Linked DNA regions of Homo sapiens: region 2 is linked to region 1. Evidence: fine-mapped expression QTL. Tissue or cell type: lung. Region 1 holds a variant in brackets; the other region holds the start of a gene. All regions are shown on one strand. Distances are between the middles of the regions.

Evidence for each region. PIP is the estimated chance that this variant, and not a neighbour inherited with it, causes the effect.
Region 2: ZMPSTE24 starts here. The variant in region 1 is fine-mapped to the expression of ZMPSTE24 in lung (TOPMed, PIP 0.96).

Annotation. Positions count from the first base shown.
Region 1 is chr1:40,133,476-40,141,580 of GRCh38, reverse strand. It overlaps the pseudogene OAZ1P1. Among named protein-coding and RNA genes, the nearest start is that of RLF, 24 kb to the left of the region's middle. The variant G/A (reference allele first, on the strand shown) is at 4,019.
Region 2 is chr1:40,254,736-40,262,840 of GRCh38, reverse strand. It overlaps ZMPSTE24 (zinc metallopeptidase STE24), which reads right to left and starts at 4,605. Exons shown (of 10, transcript NM_005857.5): 1 at 4,447-4,605; 2 at 1,856-2,002. The coding sequence starts at 4,569. RefSeq lists enhancers at 4,195-4,294, 4,385-4,664, 4,745-5,014, 5,245-5,374.

The sequences.
Region 1 (8,105 bases):
TAAATAATTTTTAAATATAAGTATGTATGTCCCATATTCAACTTAACTGGTCATCCTGTATTTTATCTGGCAACCCTGTCTTTAACCCAACCATGTGAAAAAATCAAATTGACCACTCAACATCAGGCAGTTAAAAACAATGACGAAGTGGGCGTTTTTAATTGGAAGAATAGACAAACAAGAAAATGTGTAGGGCTGGGGCCAAGAGTTGTTTAAGTGAGTTTAGGGCTGGTGGAGCCTGGGCCAAGGAGACTCTGGTGATCTGGGCTGGCAGGTCTGGGGCTGAGGTAGTAGCTTACAAGGTCAGGACAACTAGGTTCAGAGCCAAATAAATGGTTCTCATGGTCAGGAATGGCAGGGTCATGGCAAAGCCTGCAGCTCAAGGTCAGGGTCAGTAAGAATGGGGCCAAGGAGATGGCCCATGTGGTCAGGAGATTGAGCAAATAAGAAAATATATTGAGAATAGTGAGAGCCAGGTTTCTTACTCTTGGAGACAATAAGTATGAAAAGGGGAAAGACTAGAACAAACCCTGTAATTAGAGTCAGAGGTGTGAGCCTATAGGGTGTGTGTGTGTGTGAATATTATATATGATATACAAAGAGAGACAGAAGAGTAGATGTGTGTGTTTATGATATGTATAGTGGCTTTTTGGTTTTTCAAAACACACTAATTTGTAGCATTTGCTGATTTCCACGGTGTAAATACTCCCAGCATGAAATAATACTAGTTTCACAGCCACCCGCAAAGTTCCTGAATATTTAACAAGCAGCTTTTGCAAGTCCATATGAGCCAACTCCACTACAGTACTTCGGAATGTACATCATACGTATGATTGTGTGTGTGTGTGTCCAGACATATTTTTCCTAGTTGATATCTTGTTTCCTTGTCCTACTGAAAGGACTTGCAAGACCGACACACCCATAGCAATGAGTGCACCTAGCATCTACATCTTGACTTCCAAGTATCATTCTTCACTAAAAAGAAACCAAAAGTTCTTAGAGAAATGGCTGATTTCATGACTAGGGCAGTGAAAAATCTTACTGGTTCAGGAAGAAAGGAAGTATTCAAAGAATGAGGATGTAGTAAGCTAAGTAATGGCCCCTGAAGCTCTAATCTCTGGAATCTGTAAATATTATCATATACAGAAAAAGGATCTTTAGAGATATGATCAAGGAACTTGAGATGGGGAGATTGTCTTGGATTATTCAAGTGGACTTTAAATGCAAACACAAGTATCCTTGTAAGAGAGAGGCAGAGAGAGATTACGCAAAAGGAGAAGGCAGGAGGCAGAGACTGGAGTGGTGCAGCCACAAGCCAAGTGCCAGCTGGAAGCTGGGAGAGGCAAGGAACGAATTCTCCCCTAGAGCCCAGAGGAAGCATGGCCGTGTTAATATTCCTGATTTGGGCCCAGTGAAGTTGATTTTGAATGTCTGGACTTCAGAACCATGAGAACTGCAGCTGTTTTAAGCCACCGAGTTTGTGGTACACTGTTACAGCAGGCATAGCAAACTAATACAGATGAGAAATGTCAAAAGAACACAGGAGCCAGTGTAAAGAGGCTCCCACTGGCCAAATCAGGGACAATCTAGTCATCAAAGTAAATTATGATTGTAAGGAATTATAACTTATTGAATAAATTGGGAATCCTTAAGCCCACACTAATATAAATAAAAAATTAATTAAAAAGGATACAGGAGACCAGGTCCAGTGGCTCATGCCTGTAATCACAGCACTTTGGGAGGCTGAGGCAGGCAGATCACTTAAGGTCAGGAGTTTGAGACCAGCCTGGCCAGCATGGTGAAATCCCATTTCTACTAAAATTACAAAAATTAGCTGGGTGTGGCAGCGTGCACCTGTAGTCGCAGCTACTCAGGAGACTGAGGCATGAGAATCTTTTGAATCTGGATGGCGGAGGTTGTAGTGAGCCAAGATCTCGCCACTACACTGCAGCCTGGGCAACAGAGCAAGACTTGGTCTCAAAAAAAAAAAAAAAAAAAAAAGAGGATACGGGAAAGGAAATGATACTTTACTATAGAATTCAAGTAATAAATGTAGAAGAAACAATGGACATAGGAAAATCTCTATTTGGTGGCCATTATAGTAATAATCCAGGCAAGAATCATTAATGGATGCTAAAACTACTAGGTGTAAATTCGTGTATATTTATGTGTGTGTGTGTGTGTGTGTGTGTGTGTGTGTGTGTGTGTATATATATATGGAAAGAGAGAGAGAGAAATAAAGAGATAAGGAGGCAAATATGATAAAATGCCTCTGGTGGAGATTCTTCAGGATTCTCTGTACTAATCTTGCAAATCTTTTCTAAGTGTGAAATTATTCAAAACCATTTTTTAATTGTGGCAAAATATACATAAAATAAAATTTACCAACCTGTCCGTTTTTAAGCATATAGTTCAATAGTGTTAAGTACATCTGCATTGTTGTGCAACCAATCTCCAAAACTCTTATCTTGCAATCTAAAACTCTATACCCATTAAACAACTCCCCATTTCCCTTCTCCCCAGCCCCTAACAACCACTATTCAACTTTCTGTCTATAAATTTGACTACTAAGTACCTGATATAGGTGGAATCATACAGTATTTGTCTTTTTGTGACTGGCTTAGCGTAATGTTGTCAAGGTGCTACATCCATGGTATAGCATATGTCAGGATTTCCTTCCTTTTTAAGGTGGAATAATATTCCATTGTATGGATATATCCTATTTTGCTTATCCATTCATCTGTTGATGGACATTTGGGTTGCTTCCATGTTTCAGCTATTGTGAATAATGCTGCTCTGAACATGGGTGTACAAATAACTCTTCAAGACCTTGCCTTCAATTCTTTTGGATATATACCCAGAAGTATCAGTGCTGGATCATATGAAAATTTTATGTTTAATTTTTTGAGGAACTGCCATACTGTTTTCCATAGCAGCTGCACCATTTTTCTCTCTTTTCTTTTCTTTTCTTTCTTTTTTTTTTTTTTTTTTTTTGAGACAGAGTTTTGCTCTTGTTGCCCAGGCTGGAGTACAATGGCGTGATGCTGGCTCACTGCAACCTCCGCCTCCCGGGTTCAAGTGATTCTCCTGCCTCAGCCTCCCGAGTAGCTGGGATTACAGGCACCCGCCACCACGACCAGCTAATTTTTGTATTTTTAGTAGAGATGGGGTTTCACCATGTTGACCAGGCTGGTTTCAAACTCCTGACCTCAGGTGATCCACCCGCCTTGGCCTCCCAAAGTGCCGGAATTACAGGTGTGAGCCACCGCGCCCAGCCAACAGCTGCACCATTTTTCATTCCCATCAACAGTACACAAGGATTCTGATTTCTCCACATCCTCACCAAAACTTGTTATTTTCTTCATATTTTTGATAGTGGCCATCCTAATGCGTATGAGATTGTAGCTCGTTGTTTTGATTTGCGTTTCCCTAATGATTAGTGATGTCAAACATCTTTGCATGTGCTTTTTGGCCATGTGCATATCTTCTTTGGAGAAATAACTATTCAAGCTCTTTGCCCTTTTTGTTTTTTTTGTTTTTTTTTTTTGCGACGGAGTCTTGCTCTGTTGCCCAGGCTGGAGTGCAGTGGTGTGATCTCAGCTCACTGCAACCTCCACCTCCCAGTTCAAGCAATTCTCCTGCCTCAGCCTCCCATGTAGCTGGGATTACAGGTGCACGTCACCATGCCTGGTTAATTTTTTTGCATTTTTAGTAGAGACAAAGTTTCACTGTGCTAGCCAGGATGGTCTCGATCTCCTGACCTCATGATCCTCCTGCCTCAACCTCCCAAAGTGCTGGAATTACAGGCGTGAGCCACTGTGCCCAGCTTATTTGCCCAATTTTTAATTGGGTTGTTTGTTTTGCTGTGAGAACTCTCTGTATATTCTGGATATTAACCCCTTATCAGATATAGGAGTGCAATTATTTTCTCTCATTCTGTGGGTTGCCTTTTTACCCTGATTGTGTCCTTTAGAGCATTGTTTGTTTGTTTTTTGAGACAGTTTCACTCTTGTTGCCC[G/A]GGCTGGAGTGCAATGGCACGATCTCAGCTCACTGCAACCTCCGCCTCCCAGGCTCAAGCGATTCTCCCATCTCAGCCTCCTGAGTAACTGGGATTACAGGCGCCCACCACCACACCTGGCTAAATTTTGTATTTTTAGCAGAGACAGGGTTTCTCTATGTTGGTCAGGCTGGTCTTGAACTCCCAACCTCAGGTGATCCGCCCGCCTCGGCCTCCCAAATTGCTGGGATTACAGGCGTGAGCCACAGCGCCCAGCCTAGAGCATAGTTTTATCTATTTTCACTTTTGTTGCCTGTGCTTTTGGTGTCATATTCAAGAAATCACTGCTAAATCCAACGTTATGAACAATCGTTATAAACAACGTTATGTTTTCTTTTAAAAGTTTTATAGTTTTAGCTCTTATTTGAGGTCTTTGATCTAATTATTTTAGGTCTTCGAATTAATTACTGTATATGGTATAAGGTAGGGTTTTAACTTTATTCATTTATATGTGGATATCCAGTTTTCCCAAAACTATTTCTTGAAAAGACTGTCCTTTCCCAGTTGAATATACCTGGCACCCTTGCCAAAAGTCATTTGATCATATATAGGAGGGTTTATTTCTGGGCTCTATTTCTACTCCATTGGTCTATATGTCTGTCTTTATGCCAAGAGCACACTGTTTTAGTGACTCTGGCTTCATTAAAAGTTTCAAAATCAGAAAATGTAAAACCTACAACTTTGTTTTTCTTTTTAAAGATTGTTTTGACCATTCAGGGTCTCTTGAAATTTCACATAAATTTTAGGATGGATATTTCTATAAAACAAAAACTTTTAAAAATGCTTTTCTATAGAAGGAGATGGCACCATTACCTATTCTTATAATTCAGGGTGTTCTTAAAATAGTCATGACTGGCCACAGACATGAAATTAGGGGCACTTTTGAGATATGCCTTAATAGTACTGGAATCCTGTCCAGAGAAAGTTGAAAAGCCCAAGACAACGTTTTATGAGATTTTTTCCTTCCCTGTTTGTGCCAATTAGAGCAGGCTCAGCAGCTTTCTGGTCCACCTCCCCCAAGGCTATTACGTCGGAAAAGAGGGCTCATCTCTCATGGGTTTATTTGTTCCACAGGCCTTTTGGGGGTCATAAAGAGTTTAGTGAGTTTTGATAGGATTGCTTTATCTTATTCAAAGATAAAGATAAAATTTAACAAGTACTGCATAGTCACAACATCTTTTATGGCCATGTATCATTCAACAGAATAAAATGATCTTTGATTCATTTGCTCAATGTACTTGAAATCAAATCATTCAATATGACTCTTCTCTTTCTAAGATTAGAAAAATAATAATGTATATTTTTAAAATACATGTACACAGATGCTGGCTCTGTACTTACTAGGTAAGGCTGTTAAACTCTTTGTGTCTCAGATCTTTAAAATTGAAAACTAGTAGAAACTACATCATGGGGTTCCCTGAGGATCAAATGTGTTAATATATGCAAAATGTCTAGAACAATGTTATGTAAATATCAGCCATTATTATTCTCTTATTAGGTGTTGTGAGGATTAACGTAAATGAGATTACCCTTGTGAAGCTTGTGGTACAGTGCCTGGTACATAGAAAGTGCTAAATAAATATTGGCTATCATTATAAACAGATATTTCTGTGATTTATTATGAAGCCCACACCTTCATTAGGTACATCTTACCTTTCTTTACAACTTGGATACATGGGGAATTTGTTATCACAATAAGCATGGATTGAGTCTTCCTCTGTCATCCAGGCTGGAGTGCAGTGGTGTCATCATAGTTCATTGCAGCATCGAACTCTTGGGCTCAAATGATTCTCCCACCTCAGCCTCCTGGGTGGCTGGGACTACAGGTGCACACCACCGTGCCTGGCAAGCAACTCATTTTTCAGGCCCTGTGGTTGCGTTGTCCAATATGGTAACCTGTGGCCACATATAGCAATATGTCTGTCTTTATGCCAGTATCACGGTTTTAGTGAAATATGAGTAATACAAATTGAAATATGGCTAATACAAACTGAGAAGAGCTGGCCGGGCATGGTGGCTCACGCCTGTAATCCCCGCACTTTGGGAGGCCGAGGCGGGTGGATCACCTGAGGGGAGTTCGAGACCAGCCTGGCCAACATGGTGAAACCCCGTCTCCACTAAAAATACAAAAATTAGCTGGGCATGGTGGTGCACGCCTGTAATCCCAGCTACTCAGGAGGCTGAGGCAGGAGAATCACTTGAACCCAGAAGGTGGAGGCTGCAGTGAGCCGAGACCACACCACTGCACTGCAGCCTGGGTGGCAGAGTGAAACTCTGTCTCAAAAAATAAAAAAAGTAAAATACACACCAGATTTCAAAGACTTAGTACAAAGCCGGGCATGGTGGCCTATACCTATAATCCCAGTGCTTTGGAAGTCCAAGGCAGGAGGATTGCTTGAGGCCAGGAGTTCACGACTAGCCTAGGCAACATAGGGAGACTTTGTCTCTACAAAAAATGTAAAAATTAGCCGGGCATGTTGTTGTGCTCCTGCAGTCTCAGGTACTCAGGAGGCTGAGGTGGGAGGATTGTTTGAGCCCAGGAGTTCAAGACTGCAGTAAGCTATGATTATGCCAGTATACTTCAGCCTGGGTGACAGAACAAGACCCTGTTGAAGAAGAAAAGAAGGAGGAGAAGGAGACAGAGAAGGAGAAGGGGAAAGAGGAGGAGGAGGAAGAGGAGGATGAGGAGACCTACTATGAGATTCAAGTGATTCTTAGTATGAGGAAGAAGAAGAGGAGGAGGAGGAGGAGGAGGAGACCTAGTATGAGATTCAAACGATTCTTCTCCCTCAGCCTCCCAACTAGCTGGGATTACAGGCGCCTGCCACCACACCCAGCTAATTTTTGTATTTTTAGTAGAGATGGGGTTTCACCGTGTTAGCCAGGATGGTCTCAATCTCCTGACCTCGTGATCCGCCTGCCTCAGCCTCCCAAAGTGCTGGGATTACAGGCGTGAACCACTGCCTCACATTTTTATTTCTATTGGACAGTGCTTCCTTATATGGTAATAATTGTGATTGTTTACTCAAGTCATGACCATAGCTCTAAGGTGGAACTTTCATAATTTGACTTAATAAATAATATTCTCAAATGTTTATAAACATATATTGATAATTTACTTCTACATTGTAACTATATTTTAACCATATCTCATGTTAACATCTCTTTATTTTATATTATCCTGGATTCAGGGCGTATATATAGATTTAACTTGTTCCAGTTGATTATAGGCATTGATTTCCATATTCAACCTGTCATGGTTTGACTGTCCCTGGGCGTGAAAACTTTCTTCTCAAACCTTCCTGTTTGACTCCTGCAACATTATACTTGAAACCCCCCAAAAATTCCTCCTTCCCATCAGTAACAAAATATATCAGGCATTTCTCTGCCTGGAGATTTGGCACTGGCCACTATTTTTATGAAGGTTAACATGGAGGATTTAGGCACCAGGGCTGCAATGTATCATCTTCAGTGACCGCAGGGTGTCAGCAGGGCCAAAAACAAAGCAAACATTTAACCATTTCATTGGCTGAATGAGACTTTTCAGAGTCATGGATTCAATTTAACTCTAATCTCATTATTTTTATCTTACTCTAATACAAATAATAATTCTAAATAAAATTAAAATTCTACATCAAAATCCTAATTATTTAACATTACAATCCTCCCTCTCCAACGTTCCTGATCCCTCTTATTCCGCTCTATTTCGTTAATGGCACTTATATCTTCCAGCATATCATGTCTCAATTTTCATTTCTTTTTTTTTTTTTTTTGAGACGGAGTTTCACTCTTGTTGCCCATTCTGGAGTGCAACGGCACGATCTTGGTTCACCACAACCTCCGCCTCCTGGGTTCAAGCAATTCTCCTGCCTCAGCCTCCCAAGTAGCTGAAATTACAGGCAGGCGCCACCACGCCCAGCTAATTTTTTTTTTTTTTTTTTTTTTTTAGCGTTCATTTGCAGTTACAACATGTGGATAAACCCAGGCGAGATGAGCGAGCCTACCGTTCGCACCCACCCGGCAGACGCCGGGGCGGCCCCAGGAGCTT
Region 2 (8,105 bases), 120 kb before region 1:
TCTGGAACTGGTGAAACAGAAGGGGAAATGTCAGTTGACAAAACAGCAAAACTCAGCCGTCAGACATCAACTGCAGAAAGAAGAGGCAAATACACTTACCAAGCAATGGAGGGAAAACATGCAAAATATTAAGTCAAGTTTGGAAGCAACTAGCTTTTGGGGAGAATGATACATTTAAGATCTTGGATATGTTTAATGTATTTTTTAAAGTTACTATAATTCTTTTTTGAGCTCCCTTTAGTCTTTTTTGGACCAAGGCCATTATATAAATACATAAGTAAACTCTCTTTCATCTATTTAAAAAAAAAAAAAAAAGAATAGTGTCTAAATTAACCACTTCTACTTCCATCTGTCTCTGAAGGATGATTTCCTACTTGTGACATGTCCCTAACAGAAGCAATGCTCAGATAAATTAACTAAAGCCAAGTCTTTATTGAAAAGATTACTTAATAGCAATAGCTGTGTATCCCCAAAGCCAATGAGACTTTGTTTTCCAAATCATTTATTAATTTTTCTAAATACCAAAATTTAACTCTTCTAGAAGCATTGCCATTTTCCATCACCTTGAAGAAATAAGTGCAGTTTCTAATAATTTGGATCTAACCACACTAGTCTTATTATTCCATACTTGTTAAGAAAAATTTTGTGATGAGCTAGACAATTCTGTCATTTACCACAGCTACATAAAGCCAGTTTCTTTAACTCATGAAACAATGATGGTAGCTGATCATAATTCTTTTAAATTTAGGAATCTTTCTCTTAGTGGTACTAGTAGATCTAAAAGTTCTAGAGAAATGATGATGATGATGATCAGGATGATAAAAATAAAAGTGGCAGGGCACAGTGGCTCATGACTGTAATCCCAGTACTTTGGGAGGCCAAGGCAGGCAGATCACGAGGTCAAGAGATCGAGACCATCCTGGCTAACATGGTGAAACCCCGTCTCTACTAAAAATACAAAAAATTAGCCAGGTGTGGTGGCACGCGCCTGTAGTCCCAGCTACTCAGGAGCCTAAGGTAGGAGAATCGCTTGAACCCGGGAGGTGGAGATTGCAGTGAGCCAAGATCGTGCGACTGCACTCCAGCCTGGGCGACAGAGCAAGACACTGCTCAAAAACAAAAACAAAACAAAACAAAAAAAGCAACAAAAAAACCCCACATTATTTCATTCAATAAATAGGAACTATATGCTGATTACATGCCAGGCACTAGGTATAAAATGATGAACAAGACTTAACTATTTCTTTAAGGAACTACCAGTCTGCCAATTAAACAGTCAAATCAGGCCAGGTACAGTGTGGCTCATGCCTATAATCCCAGCACTCTGAGACGGTATGGTGGCATGCAACTGTAGTCCCAACTACTCGGGAGGCTGAGGTGGGAGGATCATTTGCGCCTAGGAAGCAGAGGTTGCAGTGAGCCAAGATCACGCCACTGTACTTCAGCCTGGGTGACAGAGCAAGACTGTGCCAGAAGAAAAAAAAAAAAATCCAGGCAAATTCAACATAATGAGATAAGTACTCTGACAGGAATAATGATAGAATGCTACCCTATCCACATTCGTCAGGCAGGGAGTTTCAAATGGTTGCTTAGAAGACATGACATCTCAGCTGGATCCTAATGGAAGAGGATCTTTTTCCTACCTGGCTTCAGGGTAATAGTTCCCATATTCTATAGTTTTCAACTGACTAAGCAGTTATGTTTCTGTCTTTTTTGCTCCACAGCCGTTACTATCAATAACAAAGGTTAAGAAAGCATTCTGGGACTTGTAAGTGTGGTACCCTCTTTTGTGTTACAAAAATATGAAAATGAAAACAACCAGACAGACTGTCTCTCCAAGAAGTAAATTACTCACAGTGCCTTCAGTCTCTGAATAGAGTCCTGACCAGAAGCTGAAAGTGCTTTTATCCAGTTGATAGAGTCGAGATTTCTCAAATGTTTCAGAATCCATGATCTGTCCTAACTCCGGTGGTACATGAGTTGTTGTTTTATATATCCTTCTCTGAAATATTTTAAAGAAAACACTTTAGTGAAATAGTTGTTTATTACAATAGTCATTTATGATCAAACATCGAATGGTTTATAGCTTGCCACTTATATCTGTTGAATTTGCTTTATACCTACACAAATATTGCACTTGATCAAGTACATGAAACGACTGATGCAGGAAAATAAAAGCAGAACAAGAGAACCTGAGGTGACCTGACTGGTAAAACTATAATCAGGGTTGTCATCACACTTCAGTTTGTATATGTAAACCAAAGCTGTTAACATCACAACTTTGTTACATGTACTACTCATTCTGGGTATTACATACCTCCTATAATACGGAAAACAAATTCATGCAAAGGAGAAGCACACATGCTAACTGTGAGTATGAACAGATACTGAGGCTGCTCATTAAATTTGGTCCTAAATGCCAGAAACTTGAGGATCACCAGATGGAAACATATCAGGTCTGTGAGAAAAGACCAATTTTCAGCCGGGCACGGTGGGTCACGCCTGTAATCCCAGCAGTTTGGAAGACAGGGGCAGAAGGATTCCTTGAGCCCAGGAGTTCAAGACTGGCCTGAGCAATGTGGTGAAATCCCGTCTCTACAAAAAATACAAAAATTAGCAGAGTGTGGTGGTATGCACCTGTGGTCCCAGCTATTTGGGGGGCTGAGGTGGGAGGATCACTTGAGCCTGGGAGGCAGAGGTTGCAGTAAGCCCATATTGTGCCACAGCACTACACCCTGGGTGACAGAGAATCTATCTCCTTAAAAAAAAAAAAAAAAAAAAAAAAGGAGAAAGATCAACTATCTCATTATACTAAATTATAAAAGGTAAGGGTAATTTCAGTCCAGGAAATGTAATACAGAGAATGGATACCAAACAAAATAATGGGCCACTACAACATGCTTTCCCTATATATTGTTGTGTGCCAATAAAAGCTGAGGGGAGATCGAGCACGGTGGCTCATGCCTGTAATCCCAGCCCTTTGGGAGGTGGAGGCGGCAAGATGACTTGAGTCCAGGAACTCCAGACCACCCCGGGCAACATCTCTACAAAAAAATCAAACAATTAGCCAGGCACAGTGATCCGCACCTGTGGTCCTAGCAACTCAGAAGGCTGAGGTGGAGGTGGAGGGGTCGTTTGAGCCCACGAGTTCGAGGCTGCCTTGAGCTATGATGATGCTACTGTGCTCCAGTCTGGGTGGCAGAGTGAGCCCCTGTCTCTAAATACAATAAATATTCTATCCTGGCCAAGATGGTGAAACCCCGTCTCTACTAAAAATACTAAAATTAGCTGGGCGTGGTGGCACGTGCCTGTAATCCTAGCTACTCGGGATGCTGAGGCAGGAGAATCATTTGAACATCCCTCCCTCTGCGCGCTGCTGGCAGTGTCACAGACACACTCTTCCCCTTGCAGACTCTCCCTCGTCCCTCCTAGTTTCTTGCAGTGAGCCGAGATAACGCCACTGTACTCCAGCCTGGTGACAGAGCTAGACTCTAAAATTAAATAAATAAATAAAGATTAAAAATAAATAAATAAAAGTTCAGATCTCTAAACCATGGTTATCTCAGGTAAATTGTTAACTTTCACTTTTTATTTTACCATTTTAATATTTAAACTAAAATAATGTTGATTTTATGAAAAACGAGAAATATATTTCATTTAATTTCATTTATTTATTTATTTTGAGATTGAGTTTCACTCTTGTCGCCCAGGCTGGAGTGCAGTGGCACAATCTCAGCTCACTGCAACCTCCGCCTACTGGGTTCAAATGATTCTCCTGCCTCAGCCTCCCAAGTAGCTGGGACTACAGGTGCGCGCCACCACACCCGGCTAATTTTTCTATTTTTAGTAGAGACGGGTTTTCGCCACGTTGGTCAGGCTGGTCTCGAACTCCTGACCCCAGGTGATCCGCCCGCCTCGGCCTCCCAAAGTGCTGGGATTACAGGCATGAGACACCACGCCGGGCCCGATAAGTTTTTTGTTTGTTTGTTTGTTTTTTCAAGCAGAAACAATATATGCACTTTAAGGAGAAACAAGAGTGCAAGTTCTTGGAAGGACTGCAAAATCCTATGGTTAGGCATGATTACATAAATGTCATGAGGAAGTTGGGTGTCTAAATCCTTTTAAAGGCTTATTCCAAAGATAAAGGAGGCCAAGTCTGGGCCCAAGGATCCCAAGGAAGCTGCAGGGAGGGCACAAGAGCCCAAGCCTTCCTCCAGGCCCTAAAGGGATTGGGTCCCATGATAACGTTACAGAAAACTTCCTTGACGCACCAAGACCCTCCTCAAAGCCACAGTCCGCCATCGGGCCAAGTTACGAGACTCAGCAGGGACCACAAAGACGAGACTGGCGCGGGGACCGAAGCAATCAAGAGTCTCAGGGTCGAAGCCAAGGCTACTCCAGGGCTGGCCGGGTATGGGGGTCAGGTTGGACCCTGTCTAGGCTCACCTGCCGCTGTGCTAGGAAGGTCTCCCAAAGATACACTGTCCAGGAAAAGAGCAGCACGGCCCCGAAGATACGCTTCTCGGCCGGCATCTCCCACAAAGCGTCCAGCGATGCCCACATCCCCATGGCCACCCGGTTCCGCCGGCTCCTTCAGCGTGCACCGGTGCCACACCGACACTCGTCCCTTCAGAGCGTCCCCGCGGTGTCACAGCAATATCCGTTCTTTCCGAGGGCCCCTACGCCGATACCCGCCCCCATCCCTCCCTCTGCGCGCTGCTGGCAGTGTCACAGACACACTCTTCCCCTTGCAGACTCTCCCTAGTCCCTCCTAGTTTCTACAGGAAAAGCCCCAGCCCCACCTTCCTCACTTCCGGCCCAAAGAGGGCGGGGACCCAAACGCCGAGTTCCGGGCCCGGCTGAGCTGTGTTGCATCAACATTCTTCCCCCACGTCTTGACGCTGGGTTCCGGCCTAGGGTTCTGGCTTTCCTCCTGGGCTAGTGAACGCGGCGAAGTCCTCCTCTTTCTAATCTCCAGAGCCGCAGTTCCATCCTCTGGGTCAGCGGCTTACCCTGACTGGGCTGCGGTATCTGCCTTCCTTCCCCCAACAAGGCGACAGGTAGTCGGGGCTGGGGCCGGAACTGACTGAGTGGGCCGCAACTGACTGAGTGGGCCGCGGCTCCCGCCTGAGGAGGCTAGGAAGGACTGAACAGCAGCCGACTTCCCAGGCTCTAAAAATCGTGCCTCTGAGTTAGAGCTACCTCAAAAGCAAGACCAAGCATGAGAAATGGAGTCTTTTGGCCAGTATTGGGGTGTTCGGAATTCAAGCGTATGAGAGAGTGGACGGTAGCGTTGAGAATTTTCATTTGAAGATCTCGTCTTAACCACCCCAAGTGTAGTCAGAGGCGGCGTTTTCCCTGCGAGAGTGCCCTGGAACAAAGCAAGGATAGCGTGGGTTAGACATACCTGAAATGAAAGCGTCTTACTTTATCTAGGTACATATTTGCGTCAGTAAGGCGCAACGCCATTTCTCTCTTGGAATTCAGAAGTGAAATATGGTGACTGGGACGCCTGTACATTGCTTTGACTTAAAAATTGAAGTCCATTATTCTGACCGAAAGTTAATCTGATGATTAATTGGTTAAACATACTATCGTTGCTAATTAGCATAATTATTATTTACAATAAAGTGAGCTAAATAGCTACAACTAAAATATATTTAAATTACTGTGATATTGTGATGCTAAAGATGTGTTGAAATTAATATCTTGAATTTCTCAACCCTGCCTAAATGCCTCTGAGAGTAATTAGTATAATTAAAAGTCACTAGAGAAAGTGAATGACTCTAATAACAGGATAACAAATTCTTTTCAAGTCAGATGGTTTCCAGTTCTTTGCTTTCAACAAAATTAATGGTGGCCCATGAATTGTCAGCTGATGAAGGAACACTATTTGGTTTTTGGCATGCAACTCGGAAAGAAACCAAACGATTGATTGACATGCTTACAACAAAACTACTAGCATTCTCACCTATTTATGTAAAACCATTTCTCAGCACTTGTATCTGTGAAAACAACAGAATTGAAAATGAACCCTGTTAATCTACCAGTAGGAACTATTCATCCAGATAAATGAATTAATTGGTGGGTCAGCCCCATCTATCTCACTAAGAGATGTGTTCCCAATAGAATTTCACCTTTTATAACTGTGTGTTATCAATATTTGCAATCGTGTCATTTTGATCCATTATATACTAAAGATGATTGTGATGATTACTCACTTCAGAAGAATTCCAGCGTAGAGCCATAAAGTTACACGAAATTTTTTAAGGTTTACTACATATGTCATATTTTTATTGCGAAGAAGTGATCAAGAAAAGGTTGTTCAAACATCAAAGTACTATATTTGAATAACATTTTTTGTTAGAGTACAATCTAAATATGTTAGAGATAATAAAAGAACAATGTTGAAGAGCTCATTAGTGTATGTTTTAATGCATAATGGTGGTTATTCAGTTGTTATGTAGATTCTCTTGGATACATTATAAAGAGTGATTTAACAGTTTTATCTTAAAATGTCAGTATTTACAATTTGCAAGAATTTACATCCATTGCAACTATTTGAATTTATGATGGAACCAGTTAGATACCAACTTAAATATATAAGGGGTAAACACTTTTTCAAAATTTTCTCTCCCTCAGGCCATCATTGCTATGCCCTCTTCACTCTTGACTTCAGCTGTCTGTGAGTCCAAAGCCTCACAGGAGCTTCTACCACCCAAGCTTTGTGGCTAAGGGCACAGGTTTAGAGTCAAGCTGCTTGATTGCCAGCCACGGCCGCACCATGTATTAGCACGTTCTTTAATCTGTGCATCAGATCCTCATCAGTAAAATGAGAATAACATAGTATGTACTTACTTTCTCATACTGTTAGGATCAAATGAGAAAATTCATGTAAAGCTCCTAGCAATGTAGATGGCCCTGAGTGCCCAATAAAGGTTAGCTACTGCTTGGGAGAGGGGCATCATAGCATTGATCTGTCACCATGTGTCTGAAGAGATAGGAGAGTAGGAGGCCGAGGTGTCAAAAAGCCAAGACTGACTGGAATTCATTCATTCAATAAATACTGAATGTCTGCGAAATGCCAGACGCATTTCCAGGTGCCAGGGATATAGCAGTGAACCAAAGCCCCTCTCCTGGAGCTTACATTCTTAGCTGGGGTGGATGCAGTGTTTGATAAATAATAAGCAAATATTTAATAGTAAAAGTGGAAGTGGTGATAAGTGCTATGAAGAAAAAGCAGCAAAAAGGCAATACAGCATGTTGGTGTGAGGGATGCTGCTTTACATAAGTTGGTCAAGGAAGCCTTCTCAGATTAACTGGCATTTGAGTCCCCCAAAAAAAGTAAGAGAACAAGCTGTGTGGATATCTGAGGAAATTGCCAGTCAGAGTGAAGAGCAAGTGCAAAGGCCCTGAGATTGGCCAATGCTTATCATATCTGAGGAATGGCAAGAGGCTGTGGAAAGAGTAAGGAAGAGGGGGAGTGCAGATCCATGCCATCATGCAGTCTTTTAGTTAAAAGACTTTTACTTAGAATGAAAGAATAAGCCATTGCAGGATTTTGAGCAGAGCATTGCAGAGTTTTGAGCAGACAATCCTTCTCATTACAACGTGGAGAATAAATTTAATGGGGAATGGAAGGAGGGAGTGCAGTTAGGAGGCCATTTCAAGAATCCAGGTGATTTAGCAGTTGCCAAGGATATCAGAAAAAAAGAAAAAAGAATCCAGGTGAGAGATGGTAGTGCAGACTAATGTGGTGGCAGTGGAGAACTAGTGAATTATGGAAAGTGAATAATCACTTGTTTCTCTTTTCAGAAAGACAGTACTAATAGAAGGGCTGGCCTGTGTGGAGTCTAAAAATGGGAACCTCAAAACAGGCTGTTGGCAGGATTTTGCTAAAGGAGAAAGACTGGCAGGGTGTGCTGGCTCACACCTGTAATCTCAGTTCTTTGGGAGGCCAAGGTGGGATAATTGCTTGAGTGCAGGAGTTCGAGACCAGCCTAGGCAACACAGTGAGACTTCATCTCTATAAAAATAAATAAAATGACTGAATTTGAAAGATAAAGATTATTATCCCTAGAGTGATAGACATTGCTGTAGGGTAG